2 separate regions of the Homo sapiens genome follow, and region 1 is linked to region 2. Evidence: fine-mapped QTL for protein levels in blood plasma. Region 2 holds a variant in brackets. A gene starts in the other region. All regions are shown on their reverse strands.

Region 1 (9,995 bases), not on the chromosome of region 2:
GCCACTGTTGTTGTTGGGTGGACTCTAGGGGCCTCTCCAGCTCTGCAGCTCTAAGAGGGAGGGTGGGGAAGCTTCTGCTTGTCCTCAGACCTCGGCTCCCATCTCCCTGTCTTGGTTCCCTCCTCCCCGGTTGGCAGGTGCTGGAGAGGCCTCCTGGAGCACGTCCTCCCATGTCCTCCCGCTCCCTGCAGCACACACCACAGCCAAGTGCGTCTATCTGTGGCTGTTCATGGCTGCACGGCCTGCCAGGGAGTGTGTACTTTCCTGCACTATAAAAAGCAGAGGCCGGGCAGCCTGTAAGGACATCACATGCTCCCCTGGGGCTGTGAAGTGGCCAGCGGTGGAGAAAACAGTTTCTCACGGCATTTCTCATGTTCAAAGCTCAGGACCAGAAAGCTCCCAGCACGTCATGTTGCCTCCTTTCCTAGAAACTAGGTGGGGTAGAAGAGTCAGGAACACCTCACAGAGGGGGGCGGCTTCCTCCCTCCCTCCCAAGCAGGGATGAGTCGGCCCAAGGGTGCCTGAAGCACGCGGAGGGTCCAGAGAAGATAATCTGGCTTTCTGGGGCTGGAAGAGTGTGGCCCGGGTATTGGCCCCGCGAGGCCCGGGCTAACAGTGGGGACCACACCTGCACCGGTGGAGAAGCCATGGAGGGCTGGGTGGTGGGCGGTGGGTCCACCTGCGAGGTCCAGAAGCCCCAGGGCGGCTCAGAGGCTCCAGCCCCAGGCCGGGGGGGCCACTCCCAGCGGCACAGGCAGCTTCGCTTCCCAGGAGGGCCCCGGGGAAGCAACACCGTTTTTTCCTGCCCAAGCTGGACCCCCTCCAGGACACCAAGGCTGTCAGATGCGGGGGGCCAAAGTCAGCGCTTCCTATTCCGTGAAGGTCCAGGTTGGCCACAGACAGGACTGGACAGACCCGGCGGTCAGGTGGTCCCAGTGATAAGGAGTGGGGTGAGGGCATCCCCGCCAGGTGCAGCCGCGGGCATTAGTACCATTCCTCTTCCTTCCACACCCTCAGAAAGGCACCAGAGAACAGTGAAACAAGATAAACACCCCACAAAAAACTAGGGGGAAGGTGCAATTCCTCCCGTTAGTATCCACGTGCAGAAAAGCCCCGCTCCTCCACAGTCAGGGAGACCCGGGACCATTATGACCCCCGCGCAAAGGCGCCTATGGCGGGGGCTGAGCCAGAGCCAGACGCCAGGGCTGCCCCCGAAAACCCGGGTCTTTCCGCCCCTGCGCCGCCACCGCCAACCGGCCCCTCCCACGGCGCTCTCCGTCCGTCCCGGCCCAGGTGTCTGCCATCCCCGCCCTGGCCACCAGGCTGAAGCCACGAGGATGGGGCGGGGCAGCGCTGGGTCCCCCGGCCCGGCCACCTACCTCCGTCCCGCCGGCCGCTCCTCCCGCGCCGCCCCTAGAGCATCTCCCGCCGGCCAAGCCTCCTCCCGGCCAGGTCCGGGGCGATGCACAGACTCGGTGAAGGAAACAGAGCAGGGGAAAAGGTCTTCCGGAGGACGGCAGTGCAGAAGAGGAGGGTGGGGGGCGGTACGAGCAGCCACAGGTCCCCCCCACCCACAGCACCTCCGTCTCCCCGGCGCGGTCTCCGAGGTCTCTGCGACCAGAAGCGGAAGCGCGGTTTCTCGAAAGTAAAGGAAGAGAGGGAGAAAGTGGGACAGACGCGCAAGGAGCGAAGCCCAGCCAGATGTGAGCAGCGAGGAGCCTCCAACACCCCCAGCGCTTTTCGTCCAAACAGCAGCCGCGGAGGATTAACCGTGTGTGCCCCGCGCCGCGCCTCAGGGAAATCCAGCGGCCGCCTCCTCCCGGCCCCCTGGGGAGCCCGCCAGGCTGAGAGTGGGGGTGGGGCAGATTCCGTGAGTCTGGAGGTCCGTCCAGAGGCGGAGGGGCTGCGAGCCCCGGACGAGAATGCCCCCCGCAGGATGGGGGTGCCCAGCAAGGCTGAGCGCTCCTAGTCACTTGGTAGCAGAGGGATGAGCCCCAAGGCCTCCGGGATCCGCTGTGGCCAACCCTGAGGGGTCAGGTCTCCAAACAGTGGCAGACCTGAGACGCCCTGTGCATTATCGGGGACTCAGACAGGTTTGGGGGAATCTGTGAACCCCCTATAACAAAATGCCAAACTGTGTGTGTGTGTGTGTGTGTGTGTGTGTGTGTGCGCGCGCGCGCATCACCTTTGGAAGGTGATGGTCCACTGTTTTGTTCAGAGTCTTGAGAGCTCTGTGATCTAAAGGTTAGGAAGGAGCCCCTGCCGGGAAGATTTCCATTTTCTAGAGAACAGCACGAGTACAGTGGTGAGCCCAGGATGGCTGGAAGCACTCCTCAGTCTCTATCAGGCCTCTCATTCCTTGATATGAAAACCTGACATTTTCTCAGTCATACACAAATATTTTTTCTGAACAAGGCCCGTAGGCTGCCCTCCCATCCTGATCCCTGATCCAGGCTGCTCCAGAGCCGGCCCTGGTTGGGACCCAGTCTCCATCCCTAGACTCTGCGTCAGCCCAGCTTGCTCTGGAAACTTACCATATCACTAGCAGGGGAAGGATTTGGCCAGAGAAGCAGAAGCCAGCTCTGATGATAACAGCATTCCCCCTTTTTTTGCTTCTTTTTTCCCCCCTCTGCCCTGTTCTCTCCGAGCTGCCCCTCACCTCGATGTTGCAGCTGGATTTTTTTGTTTTGTTATCCCTCCTGTGAGGGTCTGTCTCTGGACAAACAGGAGATGCGAAAATGGGGATGCTGGTTGGGACATTCAGAGCAAAACTAAGAGGCCTCACCTTTCCCTGCCTGGAGTGTCCTCCCATCCGCCGCACCAACAACTGGACAGATGAAAAGAATCAAAAAGGAGAGGAAGAAGAGGGTGCAAGCACAATGCCCACTGCCTTGCCCCAGGCTGGGCGAGGCCAGCACTCAGGTAGAGCTGAGGACAAATGGAGATGAGAACAGAAGGGGAGGCTTCCGGGCAGGCGAGGCGCCCAAAAGCCACTCCACAGAGGCCCTGACTGCATGCGTCAACCCCTCCTGTGAGTACAGGGAGAAAGGCTGCCAGGCCTCCAGCACCCAGGGGGAACTCAGAGGACACGATGGGGATATGAAGTCAACACTACTTAACCAACTAGAGATGCAGCCTCCGCTAGGCTTAGAAGATCAGGGGTTGCTTGTGTTCTTGGCATACGTGTCTGAGGCTTGGCAAAACCTACATCCCTGGTTGCTTATTGATACAGGAAAAGCCAGAGATAAGCTTGTCTCCATTCCTGTAAGTGACATGAGGAAGTTTCCCAGTCACCAGGAGCAAGGCTTAGCACACGGACTGACCTTTCCTTAGTTACTCTGTCCTCAAATAGCCCTTGGTGCAGGGATACCAGAGAAAACAACAGCATTTTTTGCAGCCCTTATGAGACCTTCGTCCATACTTCAGAGAATCTGGGACTTTCTAGAACTCTTACGAGCTAGGAAATCCCTCAGTGCAATGAGAAGGCTTCTTGTTGCCCTGCCTGGGAGCCTCAGACTCAGGAAAGTCGTGGGCAGATACCAGAATTCACAAAGCGGGACACACAGCTTGAAAGAGAAAGAGATGCAGATGATGGGCTGGGTGTGGTGGCTCACACCTTTAATCCCAGCACTTTGGGAGGCTGAGGCGGGAGGATCACTTGAGCCCAGGAGTTTAAAACCAGCCTGGGCAACATAGTGAGACCTTGTCTCTACAAAATATAAAACAATTAGCTGGGCTTGGCAGCACACACCTGTAATCCCAGCTACTCAGGAGGCTGAGGTGAGAGGATCCCTTGAGCCCAGGAGGTCAAGGCTGCAGTGAGCCCTAATCATGGCATTGCATTCCAGCCTGGGCAACAGAGCAAGACCCCCATCTCAAAAAAAAAAAAAAAAGTTGTGGATGATGGAATATTTATTCTTTCTCTTTACCCCATCCAAGATGGCTTTGGTGTTGAAGAACTGGAAAACAGTTATCTTTAACACAATTCCAAGACAGAACTCAGAGGCCCAATATAGTGCAAAGTTCTAGAAAGACAGCTGAAGGCTGGTCATCTCTTCCAGGTGCACCTGGCTCATCCTACTAGGAGGTCTTGTCCCGGCTCTGTCCTACCTTGAGGCAGCCTGGGGATGCTACCAAACTTCAGTGGGCCTTAGCTTCCTTATCTACAAAGCAGAGATAGGTCCAGGGTCTCTTATCTGGAACCAAGGAGGTCAGATATGTTCAGAGTCAGATGCAAATATCCCACAAAGCATCTTACCCAGTGGGCTTCGGGCAGCGCCCCTTCGTTAAACACTTGAATATTCGGCAGTGGGATGAAGGCATCCATAGTCTCAGGATAGTTCAAGCCACATTGTTCTGTCAAATTTGTGTGTGCCAACTTTAGGGAAAAACTAAGGTTTCAGATTTTTTGCATTTCAGGGATTTTGGAGAAGTGATTGTGAACCTGTAGCTTCTCACATGATTAATAAAAAGGTTGGTGGAACAGACACATTGTTCATTGCAACTACCATTATTACAAGTATAATCTTCCTTCCATCCTCTTGGGAAGAGGAGGGAAGGAGGAGATTAGAAAAGGGATTACTCATTTTCCTTGAGGCAGAAACTGGGGATAGGGAGGAGTGGTATCAAACGGTAACAAAGAGAGCCTGGGGTTTCCCAAGATCTTGTGTGAGACCCAAGGCTCGGAGGCATGGGAACTTCCAAAGAATAGGAGTTGAGGTCTGAGCACATGTCTTAGGTGCCACCATCATGGCTCACAACTCAAGGCAGCAGGCAATGGGCAAAGACTCACAAGGCCAGCTCCCAGAGAATACAAGCTTGTCCTCAATAAAGTGAAAAAAAAAATCCAAAATAGAGAGCATGCCAGGTTCCTAATGCTCTTTGTCATCAACTTCACTTCTGCTTTGTAATTTTAAGTAGGAAAGATGGAAACTTTGGCAAGCAAGGGATGTCCTTGCAGAGTGGCTGATTTTCTTCCTTCTCAGCCTTAGGTGCCCCCAAGCAACAAGAGGCAGAGTGTTTTCCCTTTGGCAAAATCCTTTCCTGTTGGGCAACAACAACAGAAATCAAAAATAAAAATCAGCCACAGTGCCTGGGGGATTTCATCAGCCCTGAGATTATGGGTCAGAAGTCAAAGCCAACTTCCAGAAAGACTGAGTCCCCTCCCCAAGGTCTCTCTCTTAGCCCCCACAAACCCATCCTAAAACTCCCTAGGAGCTCACATCTACACAAGGTGTCTGGGTCAAAACCCCTAAAGGCTTCCTGAATATTCCCAAATCATCCCATATTCTTAGTCAAGGGTAGATCCTAGAATGGGAAGAAATATTTCCTGGAACCCCTGGCAGGGAAGGCAGCACGTTCTGTGCCCTCCCTGATTTGGTAATTCTTTCTCTCTCCCTGGGCCTGTCACCACCACTCGCTGGGTCTGTTTACTTATTGCTGGAAAAAGCAATGTGATCTCAGTTAAAGTCTGCAAGACACTCGGTTCCAGATAAGCACAGCATGTCATTAGCAGCACTGTGAGTTTTCCCACCGCGGCCCTAACATCCCGCCTTTCCCAGCTATTTTGGGTCGGGCTGCCCAGTCATCCCACAAGGGCAGAGATTGGTATTGCAAACTTTGAATTCTGTTCCCAAGGGTAGCGACCGGCCGGCTCCGATGGTGACGTCCCACTGCCAAGGGGTGGGAGTGGGGAGAGTCTCCACAGAGCTTCGGAGAAGCTGCTAAGATGGAAAAGTGGAAACTTGGCAGACAGATCCAGCCTCCCTGGCCACTGGCCCATGCTCGTGGCTCCTGGATGGCGCTGCCACGTTCTGAGCAGCTTGGGACAGGTGGAGATCAGGACTGGCAGCTGCAAGGACACACCAGGTGAATAGGTTTCTTTATGGTCCTCACACCTGCAGAAAACCAGGAGGGTAAGGGCGTTCCCTCTTCCAGGAAGCCATGCCTTTCCACAGAAGTCTCCCCTGAGGCCATGTACACGTGTGCCTTGCAACTCTATCAAGCCATTTAATTTCCCTATGCCTCAGTTTCCTCACCTCTGAATATTTACTCTCCTGTTTTGGCAATGAATGTTTTCAGTTACATGGAGACAGGCATATACTGATCGACTAGGCAATATTTTACTTGATAAATAAGATGGGAGGGCCCCCTGGTGGACTCCCCAGTTCCAAGCACTTAACTATGAAATGAGTGAGTAAATGCATGTCAACATATGAATGAATGATTCAATAAAGAATGTCTTGTCCTTTATGCAGAGCCACAGAAACTAAAGAGAATTTCCAAAAGGAGTCTATGGTGAAGTCTCTGAGGATGCAAAGAAGACAAGGAGAATGAAAATCCAATGAAAGCCTGATTGTATTTGTTGACCTTAAGGAAAGTGATTTTATGGTACAGCCTCTCTGGAAGGGAGGGTGTGTTCGCTCACAGAATGCAAATACCCTTTGACCCCCTAATCTTTCTTCTAGGAGTTTCTCCTACAGATAAACTTAGAAGGGTGCTCAAATAAGTAAGTTCAAGGATATCCTCTGAAGCATTGCCGTAGTATAAAAAAAGCACAGATACCCTCAAAGGACATCATTAGGGGCCTGGTAAAATAAATTCCACACAGTGGAACACCGTGTAGCTCTTTAGAGAATAAACAGCTCTCTATATGTGATCTGGAACAATCTCCAAGCTATATTGTGAAGTGAAAATTACAAACCCTTACTGAAAAGCACTAAAGAAAATCCAAAGAAATGGAAAAGCAAAGCGTGGTCTTAGATAGAAGACTCAATATCATTAAAAAAAAAAAAAAACTCAGTTCTCGCTCAATTAAGCTATAGATTCCAAGCAATTCCATTCAAAATCCCAGAAGGTTGAAGGTGGGTGAGGTAGGAGGGGACTTGTCCTACATCATAGGAAGGCTTATTATAAAGACATAATAATGAAGATACTGGTATTGGAACAGATGTGATCAAGTATATTAGTTCAACATGATAGAAGGCCCACCCGACAAAGACCCATGTGTGTATGAAAACTTGATCTATGACAAAATTGGCATTGCACGTATATCAATGGGGATGGGATGGATCAATTCCTAAAAACACACAAGATGATGGGGAATCCACAGAAAAAGAAACGTAAACAGCCAAAAAGTGTAAGAAAAGATATACAACCTCACAGTAATCAGGCAAGGAGAAGACACTGATTACCATCAGATTGGCAAAATTAAGCCATCTGATGATGTCTGTGGAGCTGTTACTGGAAAGGGTCCCAAACCAGACCCCAAGAGAGGGTTCTTTGATCTTGAGCAAGAAAGAATTTGGGATAAGTCCACAGGGTAAAATACAAGCAAGTTTATCAAGAGAGTAAAGGAGGCCGGACGCAGTGGCTCATGCCTGTAATGCCAACACTTCAGAAGGCCGAGACAGGCAGACCACCTGAGATCAGTTCAAGACCACCCTGGCCAACATGGTGAACCCCCATCTCTACTAAAAATATAATTACCCCTATTTACCCCTATTCCTGCCTAACCTCCCAGGAATACAGCCCAGCAGGTCTCAGCCTTATTTTACCCAGCCCCTGTTCAAGTAGCATGCCTGTAATCCCAGCTACTCAGAAGGCTGTGGCATGAGAATCACTTGAACGTGGGAGATGGAGGTTGCAGAGAGCCAAGATTGCGCCATTGCACTCCAACCTGGGCAATAGAGCAACACTGTGCCAAAAAAAAAAAAAAAAAAAAGAAAGAAAAGAAAAGAAAAATGGCTATTCCATAGGCAGAGCACCCCCAAAGGCTGCTGGTTGGCTATTTTTATGGTTATGTCTTGATCATATGCTAAACAAGGGGTGGATTATTCATGAGCTTTCTGGGAAAGGGGCAAGAATTTCTTGTAATTGAGGGTTTCTCCCCGTCATAGGCCATACAGGGTAACTTCCAGACGTTCCCATGGCCTTTGTAAACTGCCACGGTGCTGGTGGGAGTGTTTTTTTAGCATGCTAATGTATTATAATTAGCATATAATGAGCAGTTGGGACAACTAGAGGTCACTTTTGTTGCCATCTTGGTTTTGGCAGGTTTTGGCCAGCCTTTATACTGCATCCTGTTATATGAGCAGGGTCATTGTGGCCTGTATCTTGTGACCTCCTATCTCATCTCAGATCCCGGGAGGTTAAAATGCCTTAACCTCCCAGGAATGTGGCCCAGCAGGTCTCAGCATCATTTTACCCAGCCCCTATTCAAGTTAAAGTTGCTCTGCTTCCAATGCCTCTGACATATTTCCCCCCTCCTTTTTACAAGAGGACCACTAATCCTAAGGGTTGTAGAGGTAGGAAGATTCCCCTTCTGTAGCTTCTTCAGGCTAAATAGGAGTAATGATATTCTCATCTAACTATTAAGGTCTTTTGTATTCAGGGTAGAGAGGAACTCAGTCAGAAAGCATCAGCATACTGACGGCCATTCATAACTCTGAGTTCCAACAAAAGGTGATATCTGGAAGACTGGCAAATGTTCAATTTAAGAAAACGGCGAGTAAGCTTATTCTGCATTCCTACACAACGAGTACAACAGGAATATATTCCACAATAGTAAAGCAAAATAAGTAAAATTATCTGATATGGTTTGCATCTGTGTCCCCACCAAATCTCATGTCCGATTATAGTCCCCAAAGTTGGAGGTAGGGCCTGATGGGAGGTGACTGGATCACTGGGGCAGTTTCTCATGAATGGTTTGGCCCCATCCCCCTTGGTCATGATAGTGGGTGAGTTCTCGTGAGATCTGGTTGTTTAAAAGTGTATGGTACCTCCTCGCTCTCTCTCTTTCTCCTGCTCCTGTCATGTAAGAGGCCTCTCCCCCTTTGCCTTAGGCCATGACTAAAAGCTCCCTGAGGCCTCCCCAGAAGCAGATGCTGCCATGCTTCCTGTACAGCCTGCAGAACCGTGAGCCATTAAATCTTGTTGCTTTATAAGTTACCCAGTCTTGGGTATTTCTCTATAGCAGTGTGAGAATGGATTAATACTTTATCCCAAATAAATTAAATAAGGCATTCCATCAACTGGGCAACTGTTGGAACTAAGCTGATATGGGGTTGCTAACAGATTCCAATATGTGCCCTGAATTAGAATACTGATCCAGATATTTCTTATGTTACCCATCCCTATTATTTGTTCTGAGCCATGGCCAGAGATCACTGGTTGGTTCACAGAAATAAGCAGGGTCAGTCTAGACTGCAGAAAAAAAAAAAAAAAACAATGAATGAGACTAGAATCTAATAACAGGTGTACCATAGTTTTTGAAACCTAATTTTTCTCTCTCCAGTCCCCATTTTTATTAAAAACAAATAATGGTAGGACTTATTTGTTTGAAAAATAAACCTTAGTCTTATTATACTTGGCATGATCATTTGCATGAAGTGCAGTAAGAATAATTATTCACCATATAGGCTCTTTTTACAAAAAAATGGCTTTGATGGAATCTTGTTCCATAAGGAATCTTATATTTGACTTTTTAAAGCCTTGCCCAGCCATGGGTTTATGCCTTCAAATACCTGTATGAGTTAGGTAAATTTCTCTCGTCTCAAAGTCCCAATATAACTTAGGGCTCCTGAACCTGTCACAAAGTGACATTCTTTACTTACCACATGGCAGGAACCCTGTACAGGGACTGCATAGACAAGGTATAAAGCCAGTTTTTCCAAGGGCCTTTTATTAGCTCTATAAGTCAACTTTGATTCCTTAAGGCAGTTTTTTTTATATTTGAAAGCACGCCATTCCATTCAAAGCCTTAGTAAAACCCAATTTCTCCAATTGTGTCCTGTTACAAAAGAAAACAGATTCTTACTGCACTTATGCAAATAACTATTAATATATAGCCATAAGTTAAGAATACTCACAAATAGTTTTCAATTTTTGGAGAAATCAGGTAGAGAGAAAGAAATATGCTCCAAATTTTGTTTACAGGAGTGTATTTTACTCAACTGTTAAAAGCTGTAAAGAGTTCAAAAGAAAAGTTTGGCCGG
Region 2 (9,846 bases):
TCTACATTCATCCTCCTTCGTTCAGTCCCGTAGTAACCATGGCAAACCGCGGCAAATGATCACAGGGAACTCCCCATGAGGCCATTGGTGCAGGCTGGGGGAGAGGAGGCAGGGTGGCAGGAGTGGAGACCATGGGCATTTGAGCCACTTCCTCATGTAAAACTTACTTGTGCCTTCAGGATCTGCTTGAGCCCAGTCACATATATACCACTTCTCTTTGATGACGGAATGCTGCTGTGCATGACCCACTTTATGGCTAGACGGGTTGGAAAGCACCCGTTCATGACGGGCAGTTCAGGTTGCATGGTGACTTGATGACCCATAGTCAAATGTTCAGTTTCCACCAAAGCCCAGTAACAGGCCAAGAGCTGTCTTTCAAAAGGAGAGTAGTTATCTGCGGAAGATGGCAGGGCCTTGCCCCAAAATCTGAGAGGTCTGTGCTGTGATTCACCTATGGGGGCCTGCCAGAGACTCCAAACAGCATCCCTATGTGCCACTGACACCTCAAGCACCATTGGATCTCTTGGGTCATATGGCCCAAGTGGCAGAGCAGCTTGCACAGCAGCCTGGACCTGTTGCAGAGCCTTCTCCTGTTCTGGACCCCACCCAAAGCTGGCAGCCTTTCAGGTCACTCGGTAAATGTACCAGAGTAACACACCCAAATGAGGACTGTGTTACCTCCAAAATCCATATAGGCCCACTAAGCATTGTGCCTCTTTCTTGGTTGTAAGAGGGTCCAAATGCAGCAACTTATCCTTCACCTTAGGAATATCTCGACAGGCCCCAAACCACTGGACCCCTAGAAATGTTGTTGATGTAGAAGGTCCCTGAATTTTAGTCGGATTTATTTCCCATCCTCTGGCACACAAACGTCTCACCAATAAGTCCAGTGTGTTTGCTACTTCTTGCTCACTGAATCCAGTCACTGTAATGTCATCAATGTAATGAACCAGTGTGATATCTTGCAGAAGCGAAAAGCGATCAAGGTCTCTCCGAATAAGATTATGACACAAAGCCGGAGAGTTGATATACCCCTGAGGGAGGACAGTAAAGGTATATTGCTGCCTTTGCCAGCTGAAGGCAAATTGCTTCTGGTGGGCCTTATGGACAGGAATGGAGAAAAAGGCATTTGCCAAGACAATGGCTGCATACCAGGTACCAGGAGATGTGTTAATTTGCTCAAGCAATGAAACCACATCTGGTACAGCAGCTGCAACTGGAGTGACCACTTGCTTAAGCTTACGGTAATCCACTGTCATTCCCCAAGATCCATCTGTCTTCTGCACAGGCCAAATGGGAGAGTTGAGTGGGGATGTGGTGGGAATCACCACCCCTGCGTCTTTCAAGTCCTTGATGGTGGCACTAATCTCTGCAGACCCTCCAGGGATGTGATATTGTTTTTGATTTACTCTTTTTGTAGGTAGAGGCAGCTCTAATGGCTTCCATTTGGCCTTCCCCACCATAATAACCCTCACTCTACCTGTCAGGGAGCTAATGTGGGGGTTCTGCCTGCTGCTAAGTATGTCTATACCAATTACGCATTCTGGCACTGGGGAAATGACCACAGGATGAGCCCGGGGACCCACTGGACCCACTGAAAGTCAGACCTGAGCTAAAACTCCATTAATTACCTGACCTCCATAAGCGCCTACTTTAACTGGAGGACCACAATGACGTTTTGGGTCTCCTGGAATCAATGTCATCTTAGAGCCAGTGTCCAGTAGTCCCCAAAATGTCTGATCATTTCCCTTTCCCCAACATAGTTACCCTGGTATAAGGCTGGAGGTCTCCTTGGGGAAGGATGGGAGAAAGATTAACAGCATAGGCCGGGTGCGGTGGCTCACGCCTGTAATCCCAGCACTTTGGGAGGCCGAGGTGGGTGGATCATGAGGTCAGGAGATCGAGACCATCCAGACTAACAAGGTGAAACCCCATCTCTACTAAAAATAGAAAAAATTAGCTGGGTGTGGTGGCAGGCGCCTGTAATCCCAGCTACTTGGGAGGTTGAGGCAGGAGAATGGCGTGAACCCGGGAGGCGGAGCTTGCAGTGAGCCGAGATTGCACCACTGCACTCCAGCCTAGGTGACAGAGCAAGACTCTGTCTCAAAAAAAAAAAAAAAGAAAGAAAGAAAGATTAACAGCATAAATTGTCAGTAGTGTAGTGGAGTCCTTCCTCAAGGGGACCCAGCCTCCCCTTCATTCAAGGGGTTCTGGGTCTGTAAACTGTCTCAAGTCTGGAAATTGATTGAGGGGCTGTGATTCTCTGTTTTTATAATTCATATTAGTCTTTTGTCCATTCGCCCTAGAAGTTTTCTGCTTATATAAATTAAGCAGGATTGCAGTAGGCTTCCTGTCAATTTCACTTTTTAGGAACACTGTGATTAATTAGCCAATGCCAGAGCTCTACACAAGTCAGACTATTCTGATTGCCACTTTGCCTCTGCTGTCCATTATGGTAGCTGTGCCCACCTTGCCTTTGATGGTTGAGTGCCGCCACTTGGCCCCTGCCACCTCAGGATCCAGTTATTCCCATCATCCCATTAAATCATATTTAAATTTTGTAGTTGAGTGACTGTGGTTCCCACTGTTAGATCTGACATACAGAGAAGAGCAATTACAGGGCCCTTCAAAGACGCAGGTGCTGCCCTCAAAAATCTATTTCGCAAGGCATTGGTCAAGGGTATATCTTCTGGACCCTCCCAGCTGGGATGAGTAGGTCTAAAGTGACTAATCCACTCCACCACCTCAATCTCCCTAAGCCTTTGGATCCCTTCCTCTACATTAAGCCAAGGGAGATCAGGCATTTCCAACTTGCTCACAGTGGGCCATCTTTTAATCCATATTTCAGCCAACCAAGCAAATAAACTATTAGAACCTTTTTGAACTCCTGAGCTGTGACATTAAATGCAGAGTCCCTGCTTAGTGGGCCCAAATCAATAAATCCAGCCCGATCCAACTCTATGTTCCTTCCACCATTATCCCACACCCTTAATATCCATTCCCATGCCTGTTCTCCAGATTTCTGTTTATATCAATTAGAGAATTCAAATGCTTATTTTCAAGTGTAGCACACCTCCTTATGGGTCACACTCTCAACCTCACCTCTAGGCGCCCACTGGGACTTTAGTCTAGTTATAGGTTGAGAAACAAACAGGGGTGTTAGGGTTGGCTCCTCAGGAGAATCAACATTATCTTGTCTGGCAACTGCCTCATGGGAGGCCATCACTGTTGCCTCAGGCAGTGCAGGATTTATCTCCTCAGACAAAGGTGGAAAGGCTGATGGCAGCATGGGTTAGGGAGGGAATGTTGCCACTACTGGGGATGGGGAAGCTCTTCCTTCTGGTGAAAAATGTTCATCAGAGTTTACAAACTCAGTGTCCCCAGCTTCATCAGGGTCCTCCCACACATCCCCATTCCAAGTTGCAGGGTCCTATTCTTTTCCAATCAGTGCCCTCACTTTAACAGTAGACACCTGGCGAGGCTGTGCACGTACCTTTCATTGCAGGTCAGTCACTCGCATGGTAAGAGCTTGTGTCTGTTTTTCCACGATTTCAGCTCTTTCTCTAAAGGAGATAAGACTCTCAATGAGGGCAATCTTAGAAGATTTGAGGCTCAGTATCTGCTTCTGAAGCTGAGAGTTAGAATCCCTGAGTTCATCATTTTCTTTCATCACTTTGTCCACCGAACTTTAGGAGCAACCAACCAGCTTCATTAGCTCTTTGGTTCTCCACATGTGGTCAAAGGTATTATGTATAGAGTCACTAAACTCCCTGCCTCTCATGAGCAGTGAATCAAGAGTGTCAAATGCATTTAATTTGCATAGCTCTCTAAATAGTTCATGCCAAGGACTATCGGTGTTCTCCATGCCATTAGAAGTAGAGTCCTTAGAATTTTTGGGTCTAATCATATTAAGCAGGCAACTCCAGAAATCCCAAAACCAACAAAAGAAGTCCATCCTTAATATTCTATTCTTCTAGAACCACTCCTGGTACCAAAATCTGTATTAGGGCTCTCTAGAGGGACAGAACTAATAAGATAGATAGACATATATAAAGGGGAGTTTATGAAGTATTAACTCACGTGATTGCAAGGTCCCGCAATAGGCTATCTGCAAGCTGAGGAGCAAAGAAAGCCAGTCTGAGTCCAAAAACTGAAGAACTTGAAGTCCAATGTACAAGGGCAGAAAGCAGCCAGCACAGGAGAAAGATGTAGGCTGGGAGGCTAGGCCAGTCTAGTCTTTTCGTTTTTGTGTCTGCTTATATTCTAGCCACACTGGCAGCTGATTAGATGGTACCCACCCAGATAAAGGGTGGATATGCCTTCCCCAGCCAAATGACTCAAATGTTAATCTCTTCTGGCCACACTCTAACAGACATACCAAGGATCAATACTTTGTATGCTTCAATCCAATCAAGTTGACACTCAGTATTAAACATCACAGTGGAACTTCCCGAGAGTGGGTCTTCCTCTCCCCAGTCCACTGACTCAATTGTTAATCTCTTCTGGCAACACCCAGAAACACCCAGATACACTCAGAAACAATAATTTATATCCTTCGACCCAGTCAAGTTGACACTTCATATTAACCATCACAACCAGGAACAACTTTGTGTCAATGAATATAAAAAATTAGACAGATGAATTTTTTTTTTCTGTGAGACAGAGTCTTGCTTTGTCACCCAGCCTGGAATGCAGTGACAGGATCTCAGCCCACTGCAATCTCCACCTCCCAGGTTCAAGCAATTCTCTTGCCTCAGCCTCCTGAGTAGCTGGGATTACAGACACCTGCCACCACACCCAGCTAATTTTTGTATTTTTAGTAGAGATGGGGTTTCACCATGTTGGCCAGGCTGGTCTCAAACTCCTAACCTTGTGATCCACCCGCCTCGGCCTCCCAAAGTGCTGGCATTACAGGCATAAGCCACCACACCTGGGTGACAGATAAATTTATAAAAGCATAACTTCCTGTAACTGACTCAAGAAGAAATAAAACTAGTCCCATAACTATTAAAGACATTGAATCAGTAGTTAAATACAATCCTGTAAAGAAAACACCAAGACAGGTAATTTTATGGGTGAATTCCATTTAACTTTCAAAGGATAGATCCTTCCAACTATATACAGAATTTTCCAGTGAATTTTGATAAAAGAAGAACTTATTTTATGAGGCTGGGATAGCCTTGATAACAGTCATTCAGAGAATATAGGAAAGGAAAATTATAGGCCAATCTCATAAACATACATGCAAAATCCTAAATAAAATATAAATTTTAAAAAGTTTTTAAAAACCAATACAGCATGTATCAGTCAGGGTCCCAATAGGCGGGCACACACAGTGGAACAGTTCAAGGAGGGTTTTTATATACAAAGTTGTGGTCAAAATGTGGACAATCACAGTCAGAAACTCCAGAGCCCAGGGCTGGTTAAGGTGGAGGGGCCACACCAGTTCTAGAATGCTGGCAATGGCAGGAGTGGACCCCGGAGCCTCAGAAGGAGAAAGTCTTTTACATCTTGAGAGCAGCGCTGACCTTCAGTCCCAGGATGCAGCCAACCTGAGGGTATTTGTTTGCTACGGGGACCATAATAAACTGCCACAGATTGGGTGCCTTCGACAAGAGAAGCTTATCACCTTGCAGTTCTGGAAGCCAGAAGTCCAAAACCCAGGGGGCAGCAGGCTTGGCTCCCTTGGAGTCCAGCAGGGGGCACCTGCTCTAGGCCTCTGGCCCTGGTTTGTGGACGGCCATCTTCTCTCCAGGTGTCTCCCATCGCCCTCCTACTGTACATGTCTGCGTCCTGTAAAAAGAAGCCATTCAAAACCAAAGTTGTTGGAACTTTAAATTATTTTGCATCTTCAAGGAACATGATTATAGGACCTGAGTTGCGTATGACGGTCAGCTGTAGCTTAGGCAGCTGTAACCTTTGTTCCTCTGATTATAGATTAGCTTTTTCTTTACCTACATTGTTCTGTAAAATGTTATAAAAGACTACAGGACACCAGGGAAGACCCCTTCCCTCTTCATGTTGATCTTCACTGTAGATTTGCTCCCCTCTGACTTCTCTTACACAGAGACCTCACTGGCCACCACGTTGTCTAAGACAGAACGTTCAATAGGCTCTTTCAAATTGGAAAAGGAAAAGAAAACAAGCTGTGATTAATCAAATTGCTGTGACTCATAAACCAGCCTTGCATGGGAAGCACTGTAACCCTGTTCAATTTGTTTATTTTCTGCCTGTATAAGCAAGACCTTCACTTTTTGGCTTTGGGGTACTGGCTCTAATCCTCTGGAGTCTGTGTGTCCTGAGTGGCTATTTTCAGCTTCGTGCCTGCATATGCTCTTTTAAACTGGATTCTGATCCTTTTGATTATTTCAGGTGGATAGTCCAAATTTTCTCTTCTCATTAGGACACCAGTCATATTGAGTTAGTGCCCATCCTAATAACCTAATTTGAACTTGATTGCCTTTTTAAACATTCTATCTCCAAATACAGTCACATGCTGGGCTATTAGGGGTTAGGACTTCAACATATGAATTAATTAATTTATTAAAACAGGATCCTGCTCTGTACCCAGGCTGGAGTGCAGTGGCGTGATCATGGCTCACTGCAACCTCCACCTCCTGGTGGAGGTGATCCTTCCCCTTCAGCCTCCTGAGTAGCTGAGACTACAGGTGCATGCCACCATGCCCGGCTAATTTTTTTGTAGAGACTGGGTTTCATCCTGTTGCCCAGGCTGGTCTTGAATTCCCACCTGGGCCTCCCAAAGTGCTGGGATGACAGGTGTGAGCCACTGCGCCCAGTCATCATATGAATTCTAGAAGGACATAATTCCACCTGAAACACTGAGGTGACTGACCCCAAAGAAAGGGAGCCAGGAAAATACATGCCCAGTCTCTCTCCCCTGCCTCTGATCTCCCAATAGCCCAACAAGAAACAAGAGAGTGCACAGCCCATTGCAGACCAGAGAGGCCAGCCTCCCGCGGCAGAGCACGACGGGAACAAGCAGGGCACAAGTGGGAGGGGCAAAGGGAAGACCCCAGCTCACACTTCAGCTCAATACCGTCCACTCGAGGAATACAAGGCCAACCTGAGTTAGAAAACCTATCATGTGCCGGGCGCAGTGACTCACGCCTGTAATCCCAGCACTTTGGGTGGCCGAGTTGGGCGGATCATTTGAAGTCAGGAGTTCAAGACCAGCCTGGGCAACGTGGTGAAACCCCATCTCTACTAAAAATACAAAAATTAGCCGGGCGTGGTGGCAGGCACCTGTAATCCCAGCTACTCGGGAGGATGAGGCAGAAGAATCACTTGAGCCTGGGAGGCAGAGGTTGTGGTAAGCCAAGATCGCGCCACTGCACTCCAGGCTGGGTGGCAGAGTGAGACCCTGTCTCAGAAAGAAAGAAAAAAAATGAAGAAAAGAAAGAAAGAGAGAGAGAGAGAGAAAGAAGAAAGAAAGAAGAAGAAAAAAGAAAAAAGAGAGAAAAAGAGAGAGAGAAAGAAGAAGAAAGGAAGGAAGAAAAGGAAGGAAAGAAGGAAGAAGGGAGGGAGGAAGGAAGGAAGAAGGGAGGGAGGGAGGGAGGGAGGAAGGAAACCTATCATGGAAGTCATCATGTTAGTGAAGCCAAAGGGAAAATGTGTACATTTATCTCAACAGAGGCTGAGGAAGCATGTGAAAATGCTCACCGCTCATGGCGGAAGGGTCAGGGACGGCTCACATCGGATGTGGGTGAAGCGGGGCTGAAGCCATGAGGTTCAGAGCCCCAGAACCAGCTGCTGGAGGCCCCCACACTCAGGAGGAAGAGCGGCTCCACTCTCAGGATCCTGGGGCACAGGTGCCAGACTCAGTCCCCCAGCCACTGCCCAGGCTGCACCAACACTGTGGCAGGGGCAGGGGTCTTCAGTGGCAAGTTCGTTCCGTGAGCTCGAAGGCTCTGAGGCCCATGCACAGCAGCAGGGGCCGTGGGGAGAAGGGCCTGGCCATGTCTCTCTTCCCTCTTTGCTCAGAACCCGGCTTTGCTTGGGGCGGTAACTGTGTGGCCCCAATGCCCCATTTCCTGCCCTCCCAGCCTCCGTACAGCCTGGGGCGGCGCCAATCTGCTGGGGAAGGGGCTCCCGACGAAAGGGAACAGCTGTAACTGCAAACCACTGCCTCCCCGAGACCAGGACGCCAGGAAGGAGGTGGGGCGCAGGAGAGAAGGTCCTGGGTGCCTCGAAGCAGGGAGGAGGCCTGACCCCCACCAGCCACACTCCCGCCCTCTCTGCCCTCTGGCCCCACCTCCCCCTGTCTCCTGTCCTCCCTGGCTGGAGGGAGGGTACGGCCTCTGCCTGCCCAGCAGTGACCCTCTAACTGGGCCCCATCTAGCACATGGGCCCCTCCCTCCCTCAGCCCCCACAGAGGCAGCCTGTGGCCTCCTCCCTCCCGGGAAGTGCAGCCCAGGCTCAGGCAGGCGGGCTGCCATCTGGAAGACCAACGACGGCCTGCGGGTGTTCCCGTGGGGCCGCTCTTTCTTCTTCAGGTTCAATACTCCGTGCACCACGCGGATCGGACCCCTCCACGCCTGGGGGCCTGGACTTGGTTTCCACTTCCTGCCCTGGGACAACCCAGGTGCTGAGCCCCGGCCTGGGGCTGGCCTGGGAGGGGGCTGGACTCTGCTGGGGCCTGGAGAGGCCCAGACCTCATCCCCTGACAACTCTCTGGGCCGTGGGGCCAGACCCCGCTGTGGGGCCACAGGCTCCGTCTCCACTGAGGACTGTGTGCGCTCCAGAACGGCAGCCTGAGGCCTGCTGCGCATAGACCTGGGCCCCAGTCATGGCCTGGAGGGGAAGGCGGGGCCGCAGGCAGGGGCCAGGCAGCGTGGGCCGGGTTCTTGGAAATATCTTTATTGTCAGCAAGGCAGGGAATGGTGGGAACCAGGGTGTCCCGCTGGAGGGTCAGGAGGGAGCCACAAGCCGCCTGGGAGGCCGTATC[C/T]GGTCGTTGATCCAGTCCACATAGTTGGCCACGCGGGTGTAGACCCCCGGCTTGTGGAGCCGCCCGCAGCCGTCACCCCAGCTGATGATGCCGTAGAGGTAAGCCACGCCGTTCTTCTCGCAGGCCAGGGGCCCCCCTGAGTCCCCCTGGGCAGAGACGTTGGTCAGAGCCACCCTCCCAGGGGCCTGGTTCAGGGACCCCCCTCTCCCCCAAGTGGCAGCTTGGGGACAGAGGACAAAGGCATTTCTGAGCAAGGGAGCTGATCCACTCTCCTGAACCTCATGAAAAGGTGTCTCATTCCCTGGGGGCAGCACTGGCTGGGCCAGGGCATCCAACCACGTTATTCCCCTTCCTGAAGCCACGGTCCCCCTCTCCCCACCAGCATGAACCCTGTGTGGACCACACAGCCACCCTGTGTCCCAGCACCTCCTGAAATGACTTCTTCACTCCCTGGAAAACTCCTACGCATCACTCAGGACCAGTGCAAACACTCCCTCCTCCAGGAAACCATCCTGACTTCCCTTATCGAGGTCCAGTGACAAGCCCTACCCACTCTACCACTCCTGGGCTTTGTGGCCTTGGAAGAGTGAATTGACTGCCTGGGGCTCAGTCTCCCCAGCTATAAAATGGGGCATAAGAGAGCCGTCGCATGCCAGGGTTGCCGTGCCGCCTGAGCACACAGGCCTGCAGAGCCCAGGACGTGGTTGGGCTGTTGGGCTTATTGAAGGTTGAAGAACTTATTGAAGGTTGAAGAGCTGGCTTGAGAGAACTCGGGGCAAAGGGGCCTTTGGTGCCTAGTGTCACACGGAAAGCACTGCCTTGGGCTGGACAGCCAGGAACTGTCCGGGCTCTGTGGGACCCCAGGCCCCTCTCAGAGCCTG

Direction of the effects. Positions count from the first base shown, and alleles are read on the strand shown. Strength reflects both the effect of a copy and how common the allele is.
For the plasma level of the protein whose gene starts at base 1,705 in region 1, C is the low allele of the variant in region 2 and T is the other (moderate association).

The links. PIP is the chance, under the fine-mapping model, that this variant and not a neighbour inherited with it causes the effect. Protein levels are from antibody-based Olink assays in UK Biobank. Linkage for the fine-mapping came from a reference panel and not from the study's own genotypes, which makes the PIPs less certain.
Region 1: C1QTNF1 starts here. The variant in region 2 is fine-mapped to the plasma level of the C1QTNF1 protein (UK Biobank, PIP above 0.99).

What each region holds. Positions count from the first base shown.
Region 1 is chr17:79,015,879-79,025,873 of GRCh38, reverse strand. C1QTNF1 (C1q and TNF related 1) reads right to left here and starts at 1,705. Exons shown (of 4, transcript NM_030968.5): 1 at 1,380-1,705. C1QTNF1-AS1 (C1QTNF1 antisense RNA 1) reads left to right here. Exons shown (of 3, transcript NR_040019.1): 2 at 5,638-5,868; 3 at 6,258-6,665. RefSeq lists a silencer at 1,284-1,373.
Region 2 is chr4:3,448,502-3,458,347 of GRCh38, reverse strand. HGFAC (HGF activator) reads right to left here. Exons shown (of 14, transcript NM_001528.4): 14 at 8,862-9,111. The coding sequence ends at 8,929. Among named protein-coding and RNA genes, the nearest start is that of DOK7, 9.9 kb to the left of the region's middle. RefSeq lists an enhancer at 8,490-9,293. The variant C/T (reference allele first, on the strand shown) is at 8,966.